7 linked regions of the Homo sapiens genome follow. The protein of the gene in region 3 purifies or fractionates together with the protein of the main gene of each other region. This does not show direct contact. Each region holds a gene or a part of one and is shown on either strand. Other genes may lie near its edges.

Region 1 (3,500 bases), on a different chromosome or scaffold from region 3:
AAGAAAAGAAAAAAGACTCAGGCCGGGTGCAGTGGCTCACGCCGGTAATCACAACAATTTGGGAGGCTGAGGCAGGCGGATGACCTGAGGTCAGGAATTCAAGACCAGCCTGGCCAACATGTTGAAACCCCATCTCTATTAAAAAATACAAAAACCAGCCAGGCATGGTGGTGGGCATCTGTAATCCCAGCTACTCAGGAGGCTGAGGCAGGAAGAACTGCTTGAATCTGGGAGGCAGAGGCTACAGTGAGCCAAGATCACACCACTGCACTCGAGCTTGGTCAACACAGTGAGACTCCGTTTCAAAAAAAAAAAAAAAAAGAAAGAAAGAAATAATCAGAAGAATTTATGTATTAAGATGTTCATTAGCCACATTAAAATAGCAAAAGAATGAGAAAACCCACATAGACAAGAGCACCATATGTGTTAGAGTATAGTACACTCATAAACTACAGCCATTGACAATCATTTTCAAAGAACCCTAAAGAATGAGGGAAAGGGTTCAAAATACAACATTAATGATATAAAAATAAAAAATGTAAGATATAAAATTAAAAATCTGACAATACCAAGTACTGGCAAGAAAGTAGAGAAATGTTGGATGTCTTTTGTAGTTAAAAAAGAAAAAACCGGCTGGGTGTGGTGGGAGACCAGGGCAGGTGGATCACGAGGTCAGGAGTTCAAGACCAGCCTGGCCAATATGGTGAAACCCTGTCTCTACTAAAAATACAAAAATTAGCTGGGCATGGTAGTGGGCGCCTGTAGTCCCAGTTACTCAGGAGGCTGAAGCAGGAGAATCGCTTGAACCCAGGAGGCGGAGGTTGCCATAAGCCGAGATTGCACCACTACTGCACTCCAGCCTGGGTGACAGAGCAAGACTCTGCCTCAAAAAAAAAAAAGAAAAAAAAAAGTAGAGAAATGAAAGCTCCTATATATTGCTGGTGGGGGATGACAATGGTATGAACATTTTTAGAAGCAATTTGGCAATATCCAATAAAGGTAAGAACACAGACACCCTACAAACCAGATGCTCTACATCATATCCTCAAGAGAGCCTCCAAAAGGAGGTTCATGATACCATTTATTTAATAGCCAAAAAAACCAAACAAAAACACTAAATTAGCCATCAATGGCAGAATAAACTGCAGTATAGAAATACAGCATTTTAAATAAATATCAACATATATAAATCTCAAGAATATAAGGGTAAAAAAAGCAAGCTGTGAAAGATGAACTTAGGAAAATATTTATAATTTAAAAACATGCAAAGCAGTATGACGTTATTATTTATGAACACACAGATATATATAGTATAAAAACATGAGTGGGGAGAATATGGTTCAAATTCAGAAGATGGGTGACTCTGGGGAGGCAGAAAAAGAACTGAGCCAAAAGCAAATACAACAACATGCCAATCCTGGTTAATGATGGAGCAGTTGTTAAACTATTCTCTGTGCCTTTCTATGTTTTGAAAATATTCATAAAAAAGATGAATTTGATTAAAAGTATAATATTAATTATGTGTATTTGCAAATATTACGTAGTGAATGCTAAGAGTAATTTTCTTTTCTCTTTAAAAGATTCTGCATATTCTAAAGCAGAAACATTTATTAATTTTATTTCTAAAAATAAATTTTTAAAATCAAGGACATATTTTTTCAATAATCCAAATACAGGCCGGACCGTGTTTCATGCCTATAATCCCAGCACATTGAGAGGCTGAGGCAGGCAGATCACTCAAGGCCAGGAGTTCGAGACCAGCCTGGCCAACATGGCAAAACCCCGTCTCTACTAAAAAATGCAAAAAGTAGCTGGGCTTGGTGGTGCGTGTCTGTAATCCCAGCTACTTCAGAGACTGAGGCACAAGAATCACTTGAACCTGGGAGGTGGAGGTTGGAGTGAGCCAAGATCCTGCCACTGCACTCCAGCCTGGGCAACAGAGCAAGACTCTGTCTCCAAAACCAACAAAAAAATAAATAAACACAGATGTACCAGTTTAAAAAATGTATTTATACCCTTTCTAGTTATCTTGTAAGCTGTCATCTTTTTTTTTTTTTTTTTTTTGGAGACAGAGTCTTGCTCTGTTGCCCCGGCTAAAGTGCAGTGGCACCATCTTGGCTCACTGCATTCTCTACCTCCTGGGCTCAAGCAATCCTCCCACCTCAGCGTCCCTAGTAGCTGGGACTACAGACATGCGGCAACACACCAGGCTAATTTTTTTTATTTTTGGTAGAGATGGGGTTTCACCATATTGCCCAGGCTGGTCTCGAACTCCTGATCTCAAGCAATCTGCCCGTCTCAGCCTCCCTAAGTGCTGGGATTACAGGTATGAACCACCACGCCTGGCCTATCATCACTTTTTAAACAATTCTCCAAATAAATATAATAACCTACTTTTCCAATATTCTAAAACAGCACTTCTCAAAGTATAGTCTGGAGACCTCTAGAAGTCTGAGACCCTTTCAGAAGGTCCTGTGAAGTCAAAGCTATTTTCGTAATAATAAGATGTCACTTTCCTTTTGCACTCTCATTCTCTCATTGCATAGTAAGAGAGTCTTCCAGAGATGATGTGATGTCACAAAAACTGAATACAGAAGCAGATATGAGATATTAGGCCAGACATTTTTTCAAACTTGCTAAAATTATCTGGTTTTATTTTGGAAATTTTTCATGAATAACGCAAACATGCAATGGGTTCACTTTTTTTTTTTTGAGATGAAGACTTGCTCTGTCGCCTAGGCTGGAGTACAGTGGCGTGATCTCAGCTCCCTGCAACCTCTGCCTCCTGGGTTCAATTGATTCTCCTGCCTCAGCCTCCCAGGTAGCTGGGACTACAGGTGCGTAACACCACCCCCGGCTAATTTTTCTATTTTTAGTAGAGATGGGGTTTCACCACATTGCCCAGGCTGGTCTCAAACTTCGGACCTCAAGTGATCTGCCCACCTCGTCCTTCCAAAGTGCTGAAATTACAAGCATGAGCCACTGTGCCTGGCCCACATTTTTAATGCATAAATATTTTTACATTTTCTGTTTTAATTTCTAATACTGATAGATATAACACAAAAACAAAAGCCTTTTAGAGTTCTCAGTAATTATTAATATGGTAAAGGTATCTTGAAACCAAAAAGTTTAATAACACCTGCTCCAAGAGTACCTTACAATATTTAAATGCTGGGATTTAACAAACTTACTATATTCCCCTAAATAAGCCCCTCTCTTATCTTTATGGCAGTGAGTGAATAGGAAAAGAAGGTCAAGCACTCTGTTTATAAACTTTTTTACTATCTTCTCTTAAGACCCCATCTTTTTCAAAACAGTTTTATTTCTTTTTATATCATCTTCAAATAGAACCTACCCAGTTTCCTGATTACATCAGCCACCCTTTTCTGGGCCTTGTCCTGCTCTGCCTTAAACTAATTTGTGAAAATCCTAACAGTATGTCGAATTCCAAGAGTAAAAGGACAATTTTATATGAACGTAATATAAACATTATATATGGT
Region 2 (2,628 bases), on a different chromosome or scaffold from region 3:
GGTAAATTTTGCTGCTTGTCAAGGGCACACACATTGTTTCATTACCAACAAATACTGATCCTTCAGATCTAAATTTTGGGTTTGGTTTAACCTATTTAATGTAACAATGCTTCTTTTATTTTTATTTACTTATATATTTTAATTTTTTACTCTTCCTCTTAATTATTTACAGTGCTGCTTTTAAATAATATTTTGCATTCAGAAGATAGAGAAATGTTTGAGTCTTTCAGTTTCTAAGTCTGAAAGTTTGAGGCTTGTTCAGAATAGTGATAAGAAAAGAACACATTCAACCAAATGTTACTCTTCCTTTGTATGCTGTAAAGTATAGACAGAGCTCAAATATTAACTTTTTAAGAGATGAGACATTTCTGCAGTACTGTGATATTTGGCCTTTATTTAAGTGGTCTTATTTAAGGTCAACTCTAGTAAATCAAGATGTAAAGTTTTGAAAACTGAAGATGGAATTGCTTTCATTTCCTAATAAGAGATGCTTTATAAAATTAAGGTTGTTTCATCAATATTAGATATGTTCAGAGAAGTAACCTTTTGCCTGAAACTTATTTTAATGGCAGTCTCCATTTATCCACAGGTGGAGGAAACCTCAAGAGAAAGGGAGGAAAGGCTGAGAGGATGGGAGGCTTTCCTCAATGCTCCTGAGGCCAACAGAGGCCTTAGGCGTTCAGATTCTGTCTCTGCTTCCGAAAGGGCAGGGCCTTCTAGAGCAAGGCATTTTTCAGAGCACCCCAGCACATCTAAAATGAATGCTCAAGAAACTGCAACTGGAATGGCGTTTGAAGAACCTATAGATGAGAAGAAGTTTGAAAAGACAGAAGATGGGGGAGAATTTGAAGAAGGTGCTTCTGAAAACAATGCTAAGGAAAGTAGCCCCGAAAAAGAGGCTGAAGAAGGCTGCCCTGAAAAAGAATCTGAAGAGGGCTGCCCCAAAAGAGGGTTTGAAGGCAGCTGCTCCCAAAAAGAGTCTGAAGAAGGCAATCCCGTAAGAGGATCTGAAGAGGATAGTCCTAAAAAAGAGTCTAAAAAGAAGACACTCAAAAATGATTGTGAAGAGAATGGCCTTGCAAAGGAATCTGAAGATGACCTCAACAAGGAGTCTGAAGAGGAGGTTGGCCCCACAAAAGAGTCCGAAGAAGATGACTCAGAGAAAGAGTCTGATGAAGACTGCTCTGAAAAACAGTCTGAAGATGGCTCCGAAAGAGAATTTGAAGAAAATGGTCTCGAGAAAGATTTGGACGAGGAAGGTTCTGAAAAGGAGCTTCATGAAAATGTTCTTGACAAAGAGTTAGAAGAAAATGACTCTGAAAACTCCGAATTTGAAGATGACGGCTCTGAAAAAGTGTTAGATGAGGAAGGCTCTGAGAGAGAGTTTGACGAAGATTCAGATGAAAAGGAAGAAGAGGAGGATACATATGAAAAAGTATTTGATGATGAGTCTGATGAGAAAGAGGATGAAGAATATGCAGATGAAAAGGGGCTTGAAGCTGCTGATAAAAAGGCGGAAGAAGGTGATGCAGATGAAAAGCTGTTTGAAGAGTCAGATGACAAGGAAGATGAAGATGCAGATGGAAAGGAAGTTGAAGATGCTGACGAAAAGTTGTTCGAAGATGATGATTCCAATGAGAAGTTGTTTGATGAGGAGGAAGATTCCAGTGAGAAGTTGTTTGACGATTCTGATGAGAGGGGGACTTTGGGTGGTTTTGGGAGTGTTGAAGAAGGGCCCCTATCCACTGGCAGCAGCTTTATTCTCAGTAGCGATGATGATGACGATGATATTTAATCCCTTAAACTTGCTTTTTAGGGAGAGTCCTCCATCTACATTTGCCTGTGCTTCAGGGTAATTACTAGTAGTGTTACATGAACATGTGCATAGTGGTAGGATGCCATCAGATTAAAGCATTGAAGTGTTTCATTGTTACCTGTACCTAATGGTTTTAAATATATGTTAATTGATTGTTTAGTTAAAATGTCATAGTTACAATGCAAGTAAACTGGATACTTGTTCTTTTGTCAGATTTGTTAAATGCATGCAGAATAATATTTTTAAGAGTATTGATTGAAGTTTGTGATATTCATCAATAAAAATGAGTTGATAATATGCAGAAACTGAAAATTGGACTTGAGTTAAATTGCATTTTAAATTCTTGATATTGCTTTATTTATACTGAAGGTTGGCTTTTCTGAGGACTTGAAGAATCTCTTTGGAGTCTCCTTGCTTCCCGCTGGTATTAGCACGTATGTCTCCATTTCCTCTCTATAAACCAGAACATGTTCCTAAACTCAGAAAACAACCCTCTGGATTTTTTTTTTCTGCCCAGTCCTTGCAAATTAACTCTTGTTTGTTTTCTACCCTCTTTCCATTAAAATTGACTCTCAGATGTGCAAAAGTGAACTTCCTGCAGTCTACAGCTCCCATTATTATTAAAAATCTAAAGAAACAGATTAGAATTCTACCTTGTACTGTTAGCGTCTCTGGGCCCCTTTAGAAGTTAATTCAAATTAGAGGACCTCTTCCCAGAAAAAAATGTACACACTACACTACACAACTTGTGTACTGTTTGGGGAGGTTCATGGATTCCCTGAAGTTGAAGAACTTCATGCATGCTTCAGTTG
Region 3 (3,500 bases):
CATATCCCACACCTAGGAATATGCTCCATCCATGTACCGGATGACACAGAAAGTTGTGTTTTGATTGGGGCCCAGAGCAGGAAAGGGCTCAGCAGAAGCTCCAGGCTACAACACAAGTGGCCATGCGGTGTGGGACAGATGAGCTGGCAGAGCCCAAAGTACCCGAGGTATCTGTGGTGGGAACAGATGCCTGTGAAGTTTATGACAAGACCCTACAGGAGAATCACAATGTAGACACCTGGGGTTCTGGAGCAGGGCCATGCCATCTGTAGCCAAGAATTTTATACTTCTTAAGAAACAACTCTTGATGCTACAGGGTTCTGGTAGAGACAGATCATCAGACCATGGATCATCAAGTTGACCATGTGACCAAAGCTGTTCATCATGAGCTGGATTCTGCCATATCCACCAAGTCATAAGGTCAGGCAAAGCCAGCAGCAATTCCTAAGATAGAAATAATACAACTGGGGTTGGGCATAGCAGGGCCAGAGGGCAGAAGATAGTTACGTGAGCAGGTGGCCCAGACATCTATGTCATCCACTACCTTTGCACCAGTACCTGCCTGTTCCTCATTTCACACCTTTGGCTGCCTGGGGAGCTCTTTATAATATCCAGCTGATAGAAGAGAAAAAAAGCCATGCCTTATCCTTAGATAGGTCAGCTCAGTGTGTGTGAGCAAGACAAAAAAAGACCGTGGCTGCACTGCAGCCCCACACAGGGGCATCCTTGAAAGACAGCAGAGTGGGGAGTCCTTCTAGTGGGCATAGGTTGTGCATCATGCACCTAGCCATCCACTGTATGTGGAAAGAGAAGGAGCCTGAGCTTAGACTATACATGGATCTCATGGGCAGTGGTGAATGGCTTGGCTGGTTGGTAAGGGGTCTGAAAGGAATAAGATTGGAAAATTGGAAACAAGGAGACCTGTGGTGGAGGCATGTAGTTGGACCTATAGGAGTGGGCACCAAGTGTGAAGATCATTGTATTCCATGTAAACACCCACCAGAGAGCACATACCATGGAGAAGCACTAAACAACAATGTACACACAGTTGACATCAACCAGTCTCTGAGGCCACCCCAGAGCTGACACAATGGGTGTATAAACAGCAACCATGGTGGTGTAGTAGTCCATTTTCACACTGCTATAAAGATACTACCTGAGACTGGGTAATTTAAGAAGGAAAGAGGTTTCATTGACTCAAATTTCTACATGGCTGGGGAGGCCTCAGGAAACTTACAATCATGGCAGAAGGCAAGGGGAAGCAGGCATCTTCTTCACAAGACAGCAGGGGAGAGAGAGAGTGCAAAGGGGGAACTGCCAAACACTTTGAAACCATCGGATCTCTTGAGAAGTCACTCACTATCATGACAACAGCATGGGGGAAACCGGCTCCGTGATCCAATCACTTCCCACCATGTCCCTCCCTCAACACGTGGGGATTATAATTCGAGTTAAGATTTGTGTGGAGACACAGAGCCAAACCATATCAGATGGTATGGCATGGCTCCCACTCACCAAGACTGATCTAGCTATTGCTGCTGCTGAGTGTTCGGCCTGCCAGTAACAGAGACCAACTCTGAACCTAGATATAGCTCCATCCCTTGAGAACAACCAGCAGCCACTTGGGAAGTTGGCTATATTAAACCCTGTCTACCCTGGAAAGAGCTGTGATTCATTTTCACTGGCATAGATGTATATTCCAGATACGAGTTCATCTTCACTGCTTGTAGAGCTTCATCCAGCACAACTCTCAAAGGGCTTATAGAATGTTTAATCTACTGGGATAGATTATGGGATCTATAGATTATGGGATAGTCATACAGGATCCCATATGATTCCACAGCAAAGGAGGTGCAGCAGTGGGCACATGGTGACAGGGTCCACTTGTCCTTTCATCTACTGCGCTATCCTGAAGCTGCCAGCTTGCAACTGTGTCGAAGGCACAGCTGGGGCACCAGCTCAGAAACCCTGAGAGAAGAGCTGCCATCCTCCAGGGTGCAGCACATGTTCGAAATCAAAGACCGTTACGTGATGCTTTGTCTCCAATAGGTAGAATACATGAGTCCAGGAACCAAGAAATGAAAGCAGGAGTGCTCTCACTCTTACCATCACTTCTAGTGACCCACTTGGAGTGCCTCCTGTTCTCATAGTTCTGGGCTCTGCAGGTTTAGAGGTTTTGAGTCACAAAGGAGGAACACTTCCACTAAAAGAAACATCAAGATTACTATGAACTATTAGCTGTGACTGCACCCGGGCACTTGAGCTCCTCATATCAGGAGACTACTAGGCAAGAACAGTCACCATTCTTTGAGGGATAATTAATCCTGATCATCAGGAGGAGGTACAGCTGCTGTTAAGCAATGGAGGGAAGGGAGGTATATCTTTGGTACTCAGTTGATTCACGTGGAGACTTCTTGGTATTCCTTTGCCCAATTTTTTTTTCTTTTTCTTTTTCAGAGGTGGAGTCTCTGTCACCCAGGCTGGAGTGCAGTGGCACCATCTCGGCTCACTGCAACCTCTGCCTCCTGGGTTCAAGCTATTCTCCTGCCTCAGCCTCCCGAGTAACTGGGATTACAGGCATGTGCCACCATGCCCAGCTGATTTTTGTATTTTTAGTAGAGATGGAGTTTCGCCATGTTGGCCAGACTAGTTTTGAACTTCTGGCCTCAAGCAGTCCACCTGCCTCAGCTTCCCAAAGTGCTGGGATTACAGGCGTGAGCCACTGCGCCTGGCCCCTTGCCCAATATTTATAAAATAATTATACAAGTGCCCAGACCGTGACCTGAGCAGGATATGCTGACTTCAGGCTCAGCCCCCTCAGGGCTGAGGGTCTAAATCATGCCTCCGTGGAAGTGACGGAGACCGGAACACGTGCTGGCTGAGGGTAAGGAGGATCTAGAATGGATAGTAGAAGAGGGAGATGATGAGTATCAGTTGTGGCCTCAAGACCAGTCAGTGATGGAGGTTGTAGTTTGTCCAACTTACTTTCCTAAGTTTCCCCCAGGAAAGGAGGTCCACCAGAACTTAAACCAAAAAGTAGAGCTGAGCAGCACAAATGTGGGCTGTAGTGGACACCATCCTGTGCTGCCCAGACCCCCCAGCCACCATGCTTCCTGGGCCTCTTCCCACAGCTACTGGGAGTGCTCTCAGCCAGCAGCCTTCAGCTGTCAGCCCCCTGGGAATTTTCCTCAATGGAAGAGTTACCTCACTGACATACCCCTTTCCCAGGCAGGTCAGTTCAAGGTTATGAAGGCCTGGCCCCACTGCCTCAACTTGACAACTTGGAAGGGCCATCTCAGCTTCAAGACCCTCCCATGAGACTGGCTGAGGTCTTCATACAGCATCGGAGCCCAATTTATCTCTCTGAGCAATCCTGCTTCCTTTCCTGCCCCCTTCCCAAGAGCAATCCCTGATAAACTTCCCGCATGCTAATCTCCATCTCAGAGTCTACTTTCCAAGGAAGTGGGCCTATAACATAGCTCTTCCAGTTTTTGTTAACA
Region 4 (3,500 bases), on a different chromosome or scaffold from region 3:
CTGCATGTTCTGCTCGTATCCCAGAACTTAAGAGTTAAAAAAAAACAAAGAACAGGCCAGGTGCAGTGGCTCACAACTGTAATCCCAGCACTTTGGGAGGCTGAGGCAGGCGGATCACGAGGTCAGGAGATCGAGTCCATCCTGGCTAACACTGTGAAACCCCGTCTCTACTAAAAATACAAAAAGTTAGCCGGGCGTGGTGGCGGGTGCCTGTAGTCCCAGCTACTGGGAGGCTGAGGCAGGAGAATGGCATGAACCTGGGAGGCAGAGCTTGCAGTGAGCTGAGATCGCTGCCACTGCACTCCAGCCTGGGGGATAAAGCAAGACTCCATCTCAAAAAAAAAAAAAAAAAGAGAAAGCCAATGACAATAACAGCCAGCACATACTTGGCAATAGGTGTGCAGTGCATGCCCTGCTCTAAGCATTTTACATAAATTAACTCATTTAATCCTCCCTCAATCCTATGTGCTAGGTATCACTATCCACATTTCATACAAGGAAACTGAGGCACAGATAGGTTAAATAACCTGCCTAAGGTCACACAGCTACTGAGTAGGGATCAGAATTTGAAGCTGCAAAGTCCAGCATAGCCACCCTACCCAACTACCTCTCACACAAGGGCTTGCTAACATTTCCTAAAGGGAAACAACATTGCTACCTCTATATCCCCACCAGGGGAAATTTGGGGACTGTTTGCCCAACTAGGGACCATCCCCCCATTGCCAGACAGCATCTCTCCTCACCCTGCCCCTTCTTCCCTGCCCCTGCAGGCCACATCCACGTCCTCCGAGCCTACATCAAGACCCAAGTGAACAAAGAGCTGGAGCAGCTCCAGGGGCTGGTGGAGGAGCGGCTCAAGGCCAGCGAGGAAAGGCTCAGCAGCAAGTTGACTGCACTAGAGCGGCCCTTCCAGCTACCTCCGGGTAAAGGCAAGAGCAAGACCAAGTGACCCCCAACATTTTCCCCAATAAAGGTCTGGGCCAGAATGGCACCATCCCTGCACCCTGCTGAGCACCTTCTGGGCTTTCCTGCCCAAGCCAGACAGACACAGGACACCTGTTCTCCCTGGCGTGTAGCAGATTTTATTTCATATGCAGTGCATGCAGCACTGACCGGGCCAGGCGTGGCGTTCAGAATGGCTCCCTTCCACCCCAGCTCTGATCTCAGAGTCCTGGCCAGTGGGGAGAGAGGTACCGGGCTGGTCTTCAAGAGGGTAGCAGGATCATTAGTGGGCCTGAGGCCAGAGGCCAGAGCCCAGAGGAGCTGGAATGATCAAAACCCTTCTTCTGGAGAGTTCTGCTTCCTGGGAATCCCTGGGGTTGAGGTCCTAGCCCAGCACAAGCACGGCCTCATCCTCAGTTATAGCAGCAGAGTCTCCCTCCTCTTCAGGGCCCATGATGGGAAAAGGCCCAGGGGGCCGGTGCTGAAAGAGAGCCGCCCGGTTCTGCTGCTCCCCTTTCTTTACCCAGTGCCCGTAGAGCCGGAAGGCACAGTTGTCGATGAGGTGCCGCACTGACCGCAGCGCATAAGGGTCCCTCAACAGTGCATTCTTGGTCAGTGGCCGTACACGATGGGTGCTTAGGGCCACTCGTCCAGCAGCCAGCACTGTCCACACTGCCACCTGGGAAGGGGGGCAGGGTGAGCTCTAGTGCAGGGGAAAGATCATGGGACAGAGAAACGGGCCCAGACCCTGATACACTCAGGCTTACCCGGAACCGCTGGCGGGGGGTGAGGTTCCAGGGTTGGCTGCCTTCACAACGCTCAAAGAAGGGGTGCTGTAGGGCCTGCTCAGCTGTCAGGCGTGCCTCAGGATCCACCTGCAGCAGCCTGGAGATCTAGGAGAGACCCAGAGCATGAGGGGCAGCTCTTGGGCCTCCCCTACTGTCCTCTCAGCCCCCGCTCACCAGGTCTTTGACAGTGCTGGAACGGTCATCCCACTCGGGGGAACTGAACTGGTACTGGCCCTCCATGATCATGCGTAACATCAGGATCTGCCGCCGGTGCCAGAAGGGTGGCGAGCCAGCCAGGAGTGTGAACAAGATCACCCCACAGGCCCAGCTGGGAAAGAGACTGGAGTCAGGCGGGACTAGGTGACGGGCAGACCCAGCAAAGGACAGCAAGCACGGGAGGGAGGGGGAGACCAGGAACTCACAGGTCGACCTCCTTGCCATAGCCTGGGTGGGTTTCATCCATGGAGCATTTAAGGATCTCTGGCGCTAGATACCCTGGGGTCCCACACAACTCTGGGGAGAGAGGACCAAGATTGAGGGGATGCCACCAGCCCCTCTAGGGCCCTTAGCACTGGATCTCTGCTGGAGCCTCCTCAACGCTGCCAGGACTACCAGTGTTCCCATCTTCCTTCTGTCTGCCTTCTGCCAAGTCTCCTGCTGAGGCACTATCCCTGCGCAACAGTTGGCTCACCATGGCTCCTGGTGGCCTTCCTAGGAAAACCTGGGTTTTGGATTGATTTCAAGGTCCTTGTTCCACCATATCATTTGCCTCCTCCAACCCTACCTACCCACTATCCAAGCCAACCTACCCACTCCTCACAACTTGTTACCTTAGTTTTATATATATCATAATGCATATGGAAAGATTATGTATTTTTACATACATCATAATACATACGCAAAAAAAAATTTTCTGCATTCCTATCTGCCCAAACCTCTTCCTCCTCCTATAATCTCCAACTATCACTCAACCCAAGGGGAAGAAGTGGAGATAAGGAATTTCTTTTCTTTTTTTTTTGGAGATGGAGTCTTGCCCTGTCGCCTAGTCTGGTGTACAATGGCATGATCTCGGCTCAATGTAACCTCCGCCTCCTGGGTTCAAGCGATTCTCCTGCCTCAGTCTCCCGAGTAGCTGGGATTACAGGCACGTGCCACCACGCCTGGCTAATTTTTTGAATCTTTAGTAGAGACAGGCTTTCACCGTGTTGGCCAGGCTGGTCTTGAACTCCTGACTCGTGATCCGCCCACCTCGGGCTCCCAAAGTGCTGGGATTACAGGCGTGAGCTACCGCGCCCGGCGAGCTATGGGATTTCTTAAAGCACATAATGGGTAAGTCCTTTGTTTAAAACCCTTCCCTGATTCCACATCATGACACATGATCAAATCTACAGTTCTAAAGTCCAGAGCCCTCCAAAACTTTATCCAAGTCTGTATTTTTATATTTATTTATTTTTAGAGACAGGGTCGCTATGTCACACAGGCTGGAGTGTGGTGGCACTATCACAGCTCATTGTAGCCTTGGGCTCCTAGGCTCAAGTGAGCCTCCTCCTTCAGCCTCCCGAGTAGCTGGGGTGACAGATGCGTGCCACCACGCTTGGCTCAAGTCTGTATTTTTAGTTTGTTCTACCACTCGGGCACCAATTCTTCCAGTACTTTCTGAACCTTGTTCCATGGCACACTTCCAGGAGATTTTAACAGCCCCGAATTGAAACTGACTTTGTTGGGAAATTCATTCCTACACCAAGTATTTCTTGAATGCCAAGTTGCACT
Region 5 (3,500 bases), on a different chromosome or scaffold from region 3:
ATTGACTGAGCCCAGGAGTTCAAGGCTAGCAAGTTTTTTTTTTTTTTAAAGTTCTCTCAAGGCTGCAAAGACTACAGTGAGTTAATATCATGCCACTGCAGTCCAGCCTGGGCAACAGTGTGAGACCACATCTCAAAAAATACAATACAATACAATAAATACAATACAATACAATAAAAATGTTGCTAGGTGTGGTGCTCACACCCAGAATCCCAACATTTTGGGAGGCTGAGGCGGGAGGATTGCTTGAGGCCAGTTTGAGACCAGCCTAGACAACATACGGAGGCCTCCGTCTCTACAAAACTTTAACAGCTTAGCTGGCATGGTGATGCACATCTGTGGTCCCAGCTACTTAGGAGGCTGAGGTGGAAGGATCGCTTGAGCCCAAGAGGTGGAGGCTGTAGCGAGCCATGATCACACCACTGCACTGCAGCCTGAGAAATGGAACAAGATCCTGCCCAAAGAAAAAAACAGGACGGGCGCGTTAGCTCACGCCTGTAATCCCAGCACTTTGGGAGGCCGAGAAGGGCGGATCACTTGAAGTCAGCAGTTTGAAACCAGCCTGCCCAACAAGGCGAAACCCCATCTCTACTAAAACTACAAAAATTAGCCAGATGCAGTGGTGTACGTCTGTAATCCCAGCTACTTGGGAGGCCAAGGCAGGAGAATCGCTTGAACCCAGGAGGCGAAGGTTGCAGTGAGCCAAGATCACACCACTGCCCTCTAGCCCTAGCAACAGAACAAGACTCTGGCTCAAAAAAAGGAAAAAAAAAAAACCAACAAAACAAAACTATTTTTATCCCTACTGCTATCAAAGCCAAACAGCCATGAAAACCAATGTGAGATTGCTGTATCTTTGCAAGTTCAGTCTCTTATTTGCAACCAATCTTGATACCAATTATCAAACATGTCTACCTAGTAATAGTATATTCTAGAAATTAAGTATAGAAGTAAATTCTAGGAGGGCCAGAGAGCCAGGCCCTAAAGCTATATTAACCAATAAAAATGCTCAACTATACCATGACAGTTGTTTCAGCAAAAACAAAAAACACCACTTCCAGCCGGCTGTGGTGGCATGTACCTGTAGTCCTAGCTATTCGGGCAGTTGAGGTGAGAAGGCTGCTTCAGCCCAGGAGTTCTAGGACAGTCTGGGCAAAACAGCAAGATCCCACTCCAAAACAAAAAACAAAACACACAAAAAAACCAACCACTTTCACTGCTATTTAGACCTGGATATCAGAAGCCCTCCCAGAGCTGCCCCTCAGGAAGTAGACACCTTTACCACTAGGCTTGCCAGGTCAGTCCTCCTGCCCAACCTATTCACATTGCTTCCTTCTAAATCCAGATCCTGGGGCATCTGCCTGCACTCTAGCTGCAAGACAGACTGGCAGGAGTATGAGTATCATGATTTCACCAAGAAGATGGAACTCTCATGTGGGAAATTATCAAAATATAAGGAGGATATCTAAGATGCTATAGCCACAGTGATAGTTGTCCACTAGTTAGATTATCTTTACCATCTTAACATCGAACATTTTATATAAGATGCTTATGACCAATTACATTTATTTTCCCATCACCACCTCCTAATTATACTTACTGAACGGGCACATTTTTTGGGGGGACTGCTAGAAAGTCCATCCAGTTGTCCATGTTCACCCAGAAATCCCGTCACTTGGTCCAAGAAAGAAGATACATCTAACTGGTGCCATTCTACTAGCTTCTGACCTAAGGATTAAAAACCAAGATCTATAAATAAATATAATATCTAGAATCCTTCTGAACATTCTCCAGGATCTATAAATATAATACCTAGAATCCTTCTGAACACTCTCATTAAGTATCTCTTTCAGCATATGCATAGATTAAAAACCTGGATCTATAAAGGTAATATCTAGAATCTTTCTGAACATTCTTATTAAGTATCTCTTTCAGCATATGCATAGATTAAAAACCAGGATCTATAAAGGTAATATCTAGAATCTTTCTGAACATTCTCATTATCTCTTTCAGCATATGCATACATTAAAAACCAGGATCTGTAAATATAATATCTAGGATCTTTCTGAACATTCTCATTAAGTATCTCTTTCAGCACATGCATAAAGTGTACTGTAAAGACATATCCTCTCCACCAGCTTATGCTACATAGTGTCTTCATAACCTAGAAGTCACATCAATTATACTCACCTAACAGATTCCCACCCGTAATGATAGGGCAACTATCTTATCTGCTGCTATCACTTACTGCCATTTAGGAAGAAGAGATTCAGACAAAGCAATATCTATATAAAACACCATCAATTAATAAAACCAGCTCCACCCTCTGCTTCTCAGGTGGGATTACAACTAGTATCTGGGCAATCTTAATATTTTAATGATAAAAAAAACTTTTGTCTTGTTTTGTTTTTTTGAGATGGAGTCTCACTCTGTTGCCCAGGCTGGAGTGCAGTGGCGCGATCTCGGCTCACTGCAACCTCCACCTCCCGGGTTCAGGCCATTCTCCTGCCTCAGCCTCCCAAGCAGCTGGGACTACAGGTGCCCGCCACCATGCCCGGCTAATTTTTTTTGTATTTTTAGTAGAGATGGGGTTTCACCGTGTTAGCCAGGATGGTCTGGATCGCCTGACCTCATGATCCGCCCACCTCGGCCTCCCAAAGTGCTGGGATTACAGGCATGAGCCACCACGCCCAGCTGGTAAAAAAACTTTTAAAAAATCCCTTAAAAAAGGTAAGATGAACATATCAGTTATTCTTCAAAAGAACAGAACTGCACAAACATAAAATACTACCATCTCCCAATGTTGCCAGAAAAAGATGTCCTAAATACATACATCAATAGATGTTTAAATAATTATAAAGGGAAAAAAACGAAACCTTCACCTAAATTACTGCAATTCTGAAAACAGATCCAGTCAAATATTAAAGATCAATCATTTAGGTAACTGAAAGACAAGTAATAGGTTAAAAGCTGCGTGCTGATATAAATCTTACCTGTCCGTGGGTCCAATATGGAAACATAGGGGAAATCCCCTAACTTATAAAACTGTATGTATCTCTGACCTTCCTCACTGTCATGATAAACCTGTTAAATCATTGATATAAAAAAAAAAGTCAGCCTCTAAGAAAAGAACCAACTATAACCTTCTTATACACCAACATCAATTAGCTCTCCAAATATACCTCCGGCCTATGTATTAAGATCTCACTCCTACACTAAAAAGAAAATAAATCTGGTTTGAACTCCTTCAACTTCCCACTTCCAGCACTCTCTGGAAATTTACCATAAACATATTGACCCATTCCTCCTCCTTTCCCAGTTCAGATGAGGTATTATTCTTCCTGCTCAAGTTATCTGTCAACTATGTCATTCATAACTCTCAACCATATACATCTTAATAAATCACAATATATTAAGATTATGGGCCAGGCATGGTGGCTCACGCCTGTAATCCCAGCACTTTAGGAGGCCGAGGCGAGTGGATCACAAGGTCAGGAGAT
Region 6 (3,500 bases), on a different chromosome or scaffold from region 3:
TTTGGTAGATCTAGAACCAGAACCCAAGTTTTCTATTTAGAATTCTTCATATCTTTCACTATTGTTTTCTCTCTTAGGCTCTACTTATCTGAAAATTTTAGTTAGAAATCAACTAGATAAGCAGCAGATTGGGAACATTGTGAATGATTCCAGTTTTTTAAACAGTTTTATTAAAGTCTAATGGATTTATAATAAACTGCACATATTTGACATTTACCATTTGATAAGTTTTATCATCTGTATATACCTGTGAAACCATCACCACAATCAAGATTAATGAATACATTCATCACCTTCTGAAAGTGTCCTCTGTACCACTCCCCACAAGTCCCCCACCCCACCCCTAATCCCTGTGCCAGACAACCACTGGTCTGCTTTTTGACACTAGAGATTGTTTTACATTTTCTAGAGTTTTATATAAATGGAATCACACAATATGTACTCTTTTTTTGGTCTGATTTCTTTCATTCAGCATAATTATTTTGAGATTTATCCATGTTGTAGCATGTATCAGTAGTTCATTCCTTTTCATTGTAGGATAGTATCCATTTTATGGATACACCACAGCTTGTTTATCCATTCACCTGTTAATCAACATTTTGATTGTTTCCAGTTTTTTGTTATTACAAATAAAGCTGCTGTAAACATTTGTGTACAACTTTTTATATGGACATATGCTTTAGTGATTCTAATTTGTTTCATTACCTTATAGCTGGAATACTACAAGCAAGGAAAAACAGAAGAGTTTGTAAAATTGTTGGAAGCAGCACGTATAGATGGCAATTTGGACTATAGAGACCATGAAAAAGACCAGATGACTTGCTTGGATACATTGGCAGCGTATTATGTACAACAGGCTCGGAAAGAAAAGAATAAGGACAATAAAAAGGATCTTATTACACAGGCCACCTTGTTGTATACAATGGCCGATAAAATTATTATGTATGATCAGGTAAAAATAAAGTCAAATTTCTTTCCATTTATGAAGGGAGAAAAGCACATGAAAGCAAAATGTGTGTGATAGCAGATTTTTTGAAAGAGTTTTTCTTCAAGTAACATGGTTGATAGAGTCAAAAAGAAGAAAGGTTCCTCATTAAAATCGGAATGCTTTGGTTTTTGTACTGTTTAAGTAATATGGACAAATGTAGTACATAAAACTTGCTCCAGTAATTTTATTATCTCCAGGTGAATTTCAAGGATATTTTAAGGAATTTAAATTTTTCTTTTGGTTGTTGTTATTGGCACAGAAGACTTACATTTCAGGATAATTTCTTATTTTGTAATTAAGAATTGCTTGTTAGTAGCTTAAGCACGTTACATTTGATAGGGGAATTTGCACTGTGCTCCACCTCCTTCCTATTTGGTTTTCACTTTAGTGTTACATGTTCATGGTATATAGGGGTAAAATCTAAGATAATACATTACTTCATAGAACCATTTGTTGGGAAGAGCCTGCTTCTGCCTACTTGAGGGTGACAAAATGGATCAAGCTGATGCACAGTTTCATTTTGTACTCAATCAGTCTCCAAATAATATTCCAGCCCTTCTTGGTAAGTGGTCTTTGGCAACATGTTAGGAAACAGTTGTTTTCAGCATATGCCTAGAATATATCTCTTGGTAATAGCTCCTTAATAACTCAGCTAGACAGCAAAGTAGAAGAGCTTTATGTTGTTACAAATGAAATTACCTACAACAAATATTGTTGAAATTGTAGAAATAAAATATATACCAGTTAAGAATAATTTATTATTTAGGCCAGGCATGGTATAATCTCAGCACTTTGAGACCCTGTCTCGTTATACCTGTAATCCCAGCGCTTTGAGAGACTGAGGCAGGAGGATCACTTGAGGCCAGGAGTTCAAGACGAGCTGGGGCAACATAGCAAGACCCCATCTCTACAAAAAATAATTTTTTCAAAAAAGAGTAATTGGTTATACACTTCTGAAGAGCCAATAAACAATCTCTACTTAGACAACTTAAAGTTATTTCAATTATTACTTTATAACATTTTTTAAACTTTTATTGAAGTTCAGTGGTACAAGTGCAGGTTTGTTACATAGGTAAACTTGGTCATGGGGGTTTGTTGTGCAGGTTATTTCATCACTTAGGTATTAAGCCTAGTACCTATTAGTTATTTTTCCTGATCCTCTTCCTCCTCCCACCCTCCACCCTCCAAAAGGCCCCAGTATGTGATGTTCCCCTCTGTGTCCATGTGTTCTCATCATTTAGCTCCCACTTATAAGTGAGAACAGGCAGTATTCAGTTTTCTGTTCCTATGTTAGTTTGCTAACTTTATAACATTTAACATAAAAATAGGAAGTTTTATTTTTAGACATAAATTAGTATACTTTTATGAAAAACAAATTTTTAATATGAAATTTTGTTCTGTGTTTTCAAGTATTTCTCACTCAGAGATGTATTTAACTTAGATAAGTTAGTGTAAAACATAATAGACTTGTAGCCTTTAATCAGACACTGTGTTTATTTTTAAAAATCATTACAGGTAAAGCTTGCATTTCCTTCAACAAGAAGGATTACAGAGGAGCTCTTGCTTACTATAAGAAAGCATTGCGTACTAACCCAGGATGTCCAGGTAAGAGAAAAATTTTATTTTATGTCTAAACTGTGTATTACCCAGCTTAAAGCATTGAGGATTTGTCAGTTGCTTATGAAGTTATGAAAAGATATTGTTGGATTATAGAAATGTCAGAATCAAGTTTTTTTTTTGATGCTATGTTTGAGTCAAAAGCTGGATAGTAAGGCCAGGTGCAATGGCTCATGCCAATAATCCCAGCACTTTGGTAGGCAGAGGCAGGACTACTTGAGCCCAGGAGTTTGAGACCAGCCTGGGCAACGTAGTAAGACCCTGTCTCTACAAAAAATAAAAAAGTTACATGAGCATGGTGGCACACACCTGTGGTCCCAGCTCCTTAGGAGGCTCAGGCTGGAGGATCGCTTGAGTCTGGGAGGTTGAGGCTGCAGTGAGCCATCATTGTGCCATTGCATTCCAGCCTGGGCAACAGAACAAGACCTTGTCTCAAGGGGAAAAAAAAATAGATAGGGTCTGGCTGCACTGGTTCACACCTGTAATCTCAGCACTTTGGGAGGGTGAGGTAGAAGGATTGCTTGAGCCCAGGAATTTGAGACTAGCCTTTGCAACAAAGGGAGACCCCCATCTCTACAGAAAATCAGCCGCACATGGTAGTGCTTGTGGTCGCACCTACACAAGAGGCTAGGCAGGAAGATCACTTGAGCCTAGGCATTTGAGGCTGCAGTGAGCCATGTTCATGCCACGGCACTCCAGCCTGGGCAACAGAGCCAAGACCCTGTCTCAAGAAAAAAAAAGTCTGGATAGTAGATTATAATATAATCTTTTTGCCCTATACTATTTTTCTTTCCAAAATGTCATTCATGTAGCAAATTTTTACTGAGTACCAACTATGTGGCAGGCAGTGTTCTAAACCCTGAGAATGTAGCAATTAACCAAAGAGACAAAAGTT
Region 7 (3,500 bases), on a different chromosome or scaffold from region 3:
TCTCAAGTGCTAAACTAGTTTCTAGAAATATCCTTTAACAACTGCATGAACAAGTTCGAGTTGTTCAATGACCATGAGTTACATACTGAGGCAGCACTTTATGCACAAATTGTTTATTAGTCACTAGGGAAATGCAAATCAAAACCACAATGACATACCACTTCACATCTACAATTTTTAAAAAATTTAAAAATCAGAAAATAACAAGCATTGATGAGGATGTGAAGAAATTGGAACCCTCATGCTTCGCTGGTGGGAATGTAAGATAATGCAGCCACTATGGAAAAGTTTAACGATTCCTCAAAAGGTTCTAAACATAGAACCAGCATATGAATCAGAAATCGCACTCTAAGCTGAAACTTAAATATCTGACCACCAATGCTCATAGCAGCATTATTTATAAGAACCAAAAGGTGGAAATAACCATAGCAGATAAATGGATAAACAAAATATGACATATACATACTATGGAATACTGTTTAATCAAAAATTTTAAAATATTTTAAAATTTTAAAATGTGCTACAACATTGAAGGACTCTGAAAACATTATGCTTAGAGAAAGAAGCCAACACACAAAGACAAATATTATACAATTCCATTTATATGAGGTACCTGGAATGGGCAAACTCATAGACACAGAAAGTGGAATTGTTATTACCAGGGCTATGAGGCAGAGGGGACGGAAGAGTTGCTATTTCATGAGTGCAAAGTTTGTGCTGGGAATGATGAAAATGTTTTGGATATAGACAGTGGTGATAGTTACACAATATTGTGAATGTACTTAATGCCAATGACTTGTACATTTATGAAGGGTTAAAAAGATAAACATTGTGTTATGTATATTTTACCACAATATAGAAAAACATAATAAGCAATTTTCTTGCGCACTTTCCCCCATTATGATTCTTTTTTGTTCACTGGTCCAAAGCCCAGGCAATAGAATTAAAATATCAATTTCAAATTTTAAAATGGATCAAAGTTAAGGAACGTGCTCTGTATTAGCCTACCAGGTATGTTAACTTTAGACTGTTTGGCAGAACATTTCATCCAAAGTAAACACCAGTGTTCTATCACAAAAATAATTCACTCTCTTTACAGGATCTCCACCAATAAATTCTATATCTAGAAAACATCCTGAAGCTTAAATAACAAAGAAATTTATGATTTATCATTAACTGAAAGGACGATAGACAAAAAGAGATTGTTTCTTCAGGACATTCTTCCAACCACTTTCCCCATAGTAATAAATCTAGTTTACAAACTGCTACATGAAGTTTGTCTAAAAATACTTTTTCTCATTTCAAAGAACTAAGAACTCCAAAGTAAATTTCTTTGGTTTAATTTTTTCATATTAAAAGTAAATAATGAAATTCGACATATGTCTGTTTTTAATTATAGTCTCTTACCCATGCATACAGAAGATAGCTTTTCTGTAGATTCATCTTCTTTTGTTATTGTTACTGTTTTTTGTGACATTCCAGCAATTTTCTTGTATCCTTTTCTAGCCTGATCCACCAGAAGCTGAAATTCACTCTTATGTTTTTTACCTGAAATTCAAAAGATCTTCTCAGTAAAGCTAGGACTATGAAAGTTAACCATCTACAACTGACAAACTGAATATCAAGAGGTGTACAAGGGATGGGCATGGTGGCTTACGCCTGTAATCCCAGCACTTCAGGAGCCTGAAGTGAATGGATCACTTGTCAGGAGTTCGAAACCAGCGTGGCCAGCATGGTGAAACCCCATCTCTACTAAAAATACAAAAAAAATTAGCCAGGTGTGGTATCACATGCCTGTAATCCCAGCACTTTGGGAGGCCGAAGTAGGTGGACCATTTGTCAGGAGTTCGAGACCAGCCTGGCCAACATGGTGAAACCCTATCTCTACTAAAAGTACAAAAAAATTAGCCAGGTGTGGTATTGTGTGCCTATAATCCCAGCTACTTAGGAGGCTGAGGCACAAGAGTCACTTGAACCTGGGAGGCAGAGGTTTCAGTGACCCGAGATTGCACCACTGCACTCCAGCCTGGGCAACAGGGCAAGACTCTGTCTCAAAAAAAAAAAACAAAAAACAAAAAACAGAGGTGTACAAGCTTGCTCAAGAACAGCATCCTTAGGAATCACTTGCAATAAATTTAAAAGCTGCCAAGCATAAGAATACAAAGGGCTGGAGTGTCATGGAACCTTCTTTTTATCTTCTCCCTTCCTCAAATACAAATATGGAAACATGATATTCCTAGTTAGCTACTCTAGGTTTCTTCCCAAACTCCATTCTCTAGAAAGGCTTTTACATAATCATAAGAGCATGAAAGATGCCCGCTTTCTTAAATATATACAAATGATACCATTCTAACTTCCAAGATACAAGAGAACTAAGAGTATTTGCTGAATCTAAAATAGAAGCTTCTAGGAAAGTTGAATCATCATAACAAAGGAATGTCCGTCTACTCCAGCTCTCCTTTTTTTCTTCACATTTCCGGCCGGTTTCCCAGTAGAGCCCCTTTAAGATTCTAAGATCTCTCCCAACCAATTCTACCTTATCTTACGATACTATACTAACTCTAATCTTTATTTACTACCATTTTAACACCTTTGAATATAATTAACCCTGACCTCAAGATCATCATTATTAATGTACCAATCTGTTCAATAAAGAGCAGCCAGTCATCATTACTGTATGGACTTTAGGGCATGTATTTGTGATTCTGAACCATGCAGCTGAGGTCACAGTTTACTTATCTAGCAACGTTAAATACTTAGGCCACAGTCCAAAGTAATGTCATAAATCCTATAAAATTTTTAGGGAGAACCATACTACAAATGGTTAAAACAAAATTTTGACACTGTTTTCATACAAAAATCAACAATGTACTTGTTATCACTTGGTTTCTTCCATTTTCCTTAGCATAATACTAAGGCATAGGGAATTTACTGGGTGTAGGGAAAAAATTGTGCTTCAGTTGAACTATGGCATTGTCTAAATCTACTCTCCCAAGATTCCAGCCATTCACTGCCTTTGAGCTATGGTATAACTCTGTATGTTGTAGATAACTGAGAGCAATGGAAAATAATTCTTGTCTATAGATATGCAAAATCCTGTTGGGTGGAGGTTCAATTGACTTTCCTCCTCCAATGTGGAAGAAGCCAGTTTTTTGCTCATTATACATTCATTTCAATGTTCCTCATCTGTAAATGTGATGATTCTTTGGCTCCTTCTTTGATCACCTCATAATATCAGTCTTCTCTCTACTAATGAGTTTAAATCTTTAATAAAAACACATGTTCATTTTACATCCATATGAGAATGATGTTAGTTGTTTTTGAAAATTATCTTTTAACGCAAAAAGAGAAAACACTAAATTGTGACGCACAAGGAAGAAAATAGTTGGATTCCTATACATGAATATTGACAGGCACAGCAAAGACATTCAGGAAAGAATGCTCCTAATTACAATATTTTTATGTGTATGGTACATGTATGAAAACTTCTAGTGAAACTA

What was found.
Region 1: the proteins of TCEANC2 (region 3) and DCAF1 purify together in Homo sapiens (co-immunoprecipitation; 3 studies listed by BioGRID and IntAct, with this or other methods). This does not show direct contact.
Region 2: the proteins of TCEANC2 (region 3) and HTATSF1 purify together in Homo sapiens (affinity purification with mass spectrometry; 2 studies listed by BioGRID and IntAct, with this or other methods). This does not show direct contact.
Region 4: the proteins of TCEANC2 (region 3) and PHKG2 purify together in Homo sapiens (affinity purification with mass spectrometry; one large-scale study listed by BioGRID and IntAct). This does not show direct contact.
Region 5: the proteins of TCEANC2 (region 3) and UBXN7 purify together in Homo sapiens (affinity purification with mass spectrometry; 2 studies listed by BioGRID and IntAct, with this or other methods). This does not show direct contact.
Region 6: the proteins of TCEANC2 (region 3) and CTR9 purify together in Homo sapiens (affinity purification with mass spectrometry; one large-scale study listed by BioGRID and IntAct). This does not show direct contact.
Region 7: the proteins of TCEANC2 (region 3) and RAD18 purify together in Homo sapiens (affinity purification with mass spectrometry; 2 studies listed by BioGRID and IntAct, with this or other methods). This does not show direct contact.

Annotation. Positions count from the first base shown.
Region 1 is NC_000003.12:51,423,516-51,427,015, forward strand, and holds part of DCAF1 (DDB1- and CUL4-associated factor 1), read right to left. Parts: intron 2,494-3,500; exon of another isoform or gene 2,395-2,493; intron 1-2,394. UniProt on the Homo sapiens protein: Acts both as a substrate recognition component of E3 ubiquitin-protein ligase complexes and as an atypical serine/threonine-protein kinase, playing key roles in various processes such as cell cycle, telomerase regulation and histone modification.
Region 2 is NC_000023.11:136,510,219-136,512,846, forward strand, and holds the end of HTATSF1 (17S U2 SnRNP complex component HTATSF1), read left to right. Parts: coding exon 1-1; intron 2-589; coding exon 590-1,795; 3' UTR 1,796-2,128; downstream 2,129-2,628. UniProt on the Homo sapiens protein: Component of the 17S U2 SnRNP complex of the spliceosome, a large ribonucleoprotein complex that removes introns from transcribed pre-mRNAs.
Region 3 is NC_000001.11:54,102,108-54,105,607, forward strand, and holds part of TCEANC2 (transcription elongation factor A N-terminal and central domain-containing protein 2), read left to right. Parts: 3' UTR 1-3,500.
Region 4 is NC_000016.10:30,754,925-30,758,424, reverse strand, and holds part of PHKG2 (phosphorylase b kinase gamma catalytic chain, liver/testis isoform), read right to left. Parts: intron 2,244-3,500; coding exon 2,153-2,243; intron 2,059-2,152; coding exon 1,905-2,058; intron 1,836-1,904; coding exon 1,710-1,835; intron 1,622-1,709; coding exon 1,328-1,621; 3' UTR 950-1,327; coding exon of another isoform or gene 771-949; 3' UTR 1-770. Other genes in the region: CFAP119 (cilia- and flagella-associated protein 119), read left to right, coding at 771-949. UniProt on the Homo sapiens protein: Catalytic subunit of the phosphorylase b kinase (PHK), which mediates the neural and hormonal regulation of glycogen breakdown (glycogenolysis) by phosphorylating and thereby activating glycogen phosphorylase. May regulate glycogeneolysis in the testis.
Region 5 is NC_000003.12:196,366,428-196,369,927, forward strand, and holds part of UBXN7 (UBX domain-containing protein 7), read right to left. Parts: intron 3,085-3,500; coding exon 2,994-3,084; intron 1,729-2,993; coding exon 1,601-1,728; intron 1-1,600. UniProt on the Homo sapiens protein: Ubiquitin-binding adapter that links a subset of NEDD8-associated cullin ring ligases (CRLs) to the segregase VCP/p97, to regulate turnover of their ubiquitination substrates.
Region 6 is NC_000011.10:10,754,246-10,757,745, forward strand, and holds part of CTR9 (RNA polymerase-associated protein CTR9 homolog), read left to right. Parts: intron 1-712; coding exon 713-952; intron 953-1,432; coding exon 1,433-1,550; intron 1,551-2,503; coding exon 2,504-2,593; intron 2,594-3,500. UniProt on the Homo sapiens protein: Component of the PAF1 complex (PAF1C) which has multiple functions during transcription by RNA polymerase II and is implicated in regulation of development and maintenance of embryonic stem cell pluripotency.
Region 7 is NC_000003.12:8,900,973-8,904,472, forward strand, and holds part of RAD18 (E3 ubiquitin-protein ligase RAD18), read right to left. Parts: intron 1,549-3,500; coding exon 1,408-1,548; intron 1-1,407. UniProt on the Homo sapiens protein: E3 ubiquitin-protein ligase involved in postreplication repair of UV-damaged DNA. Postreplication repair functions in gap-filling of a daughter strand on replication of damaged DNA.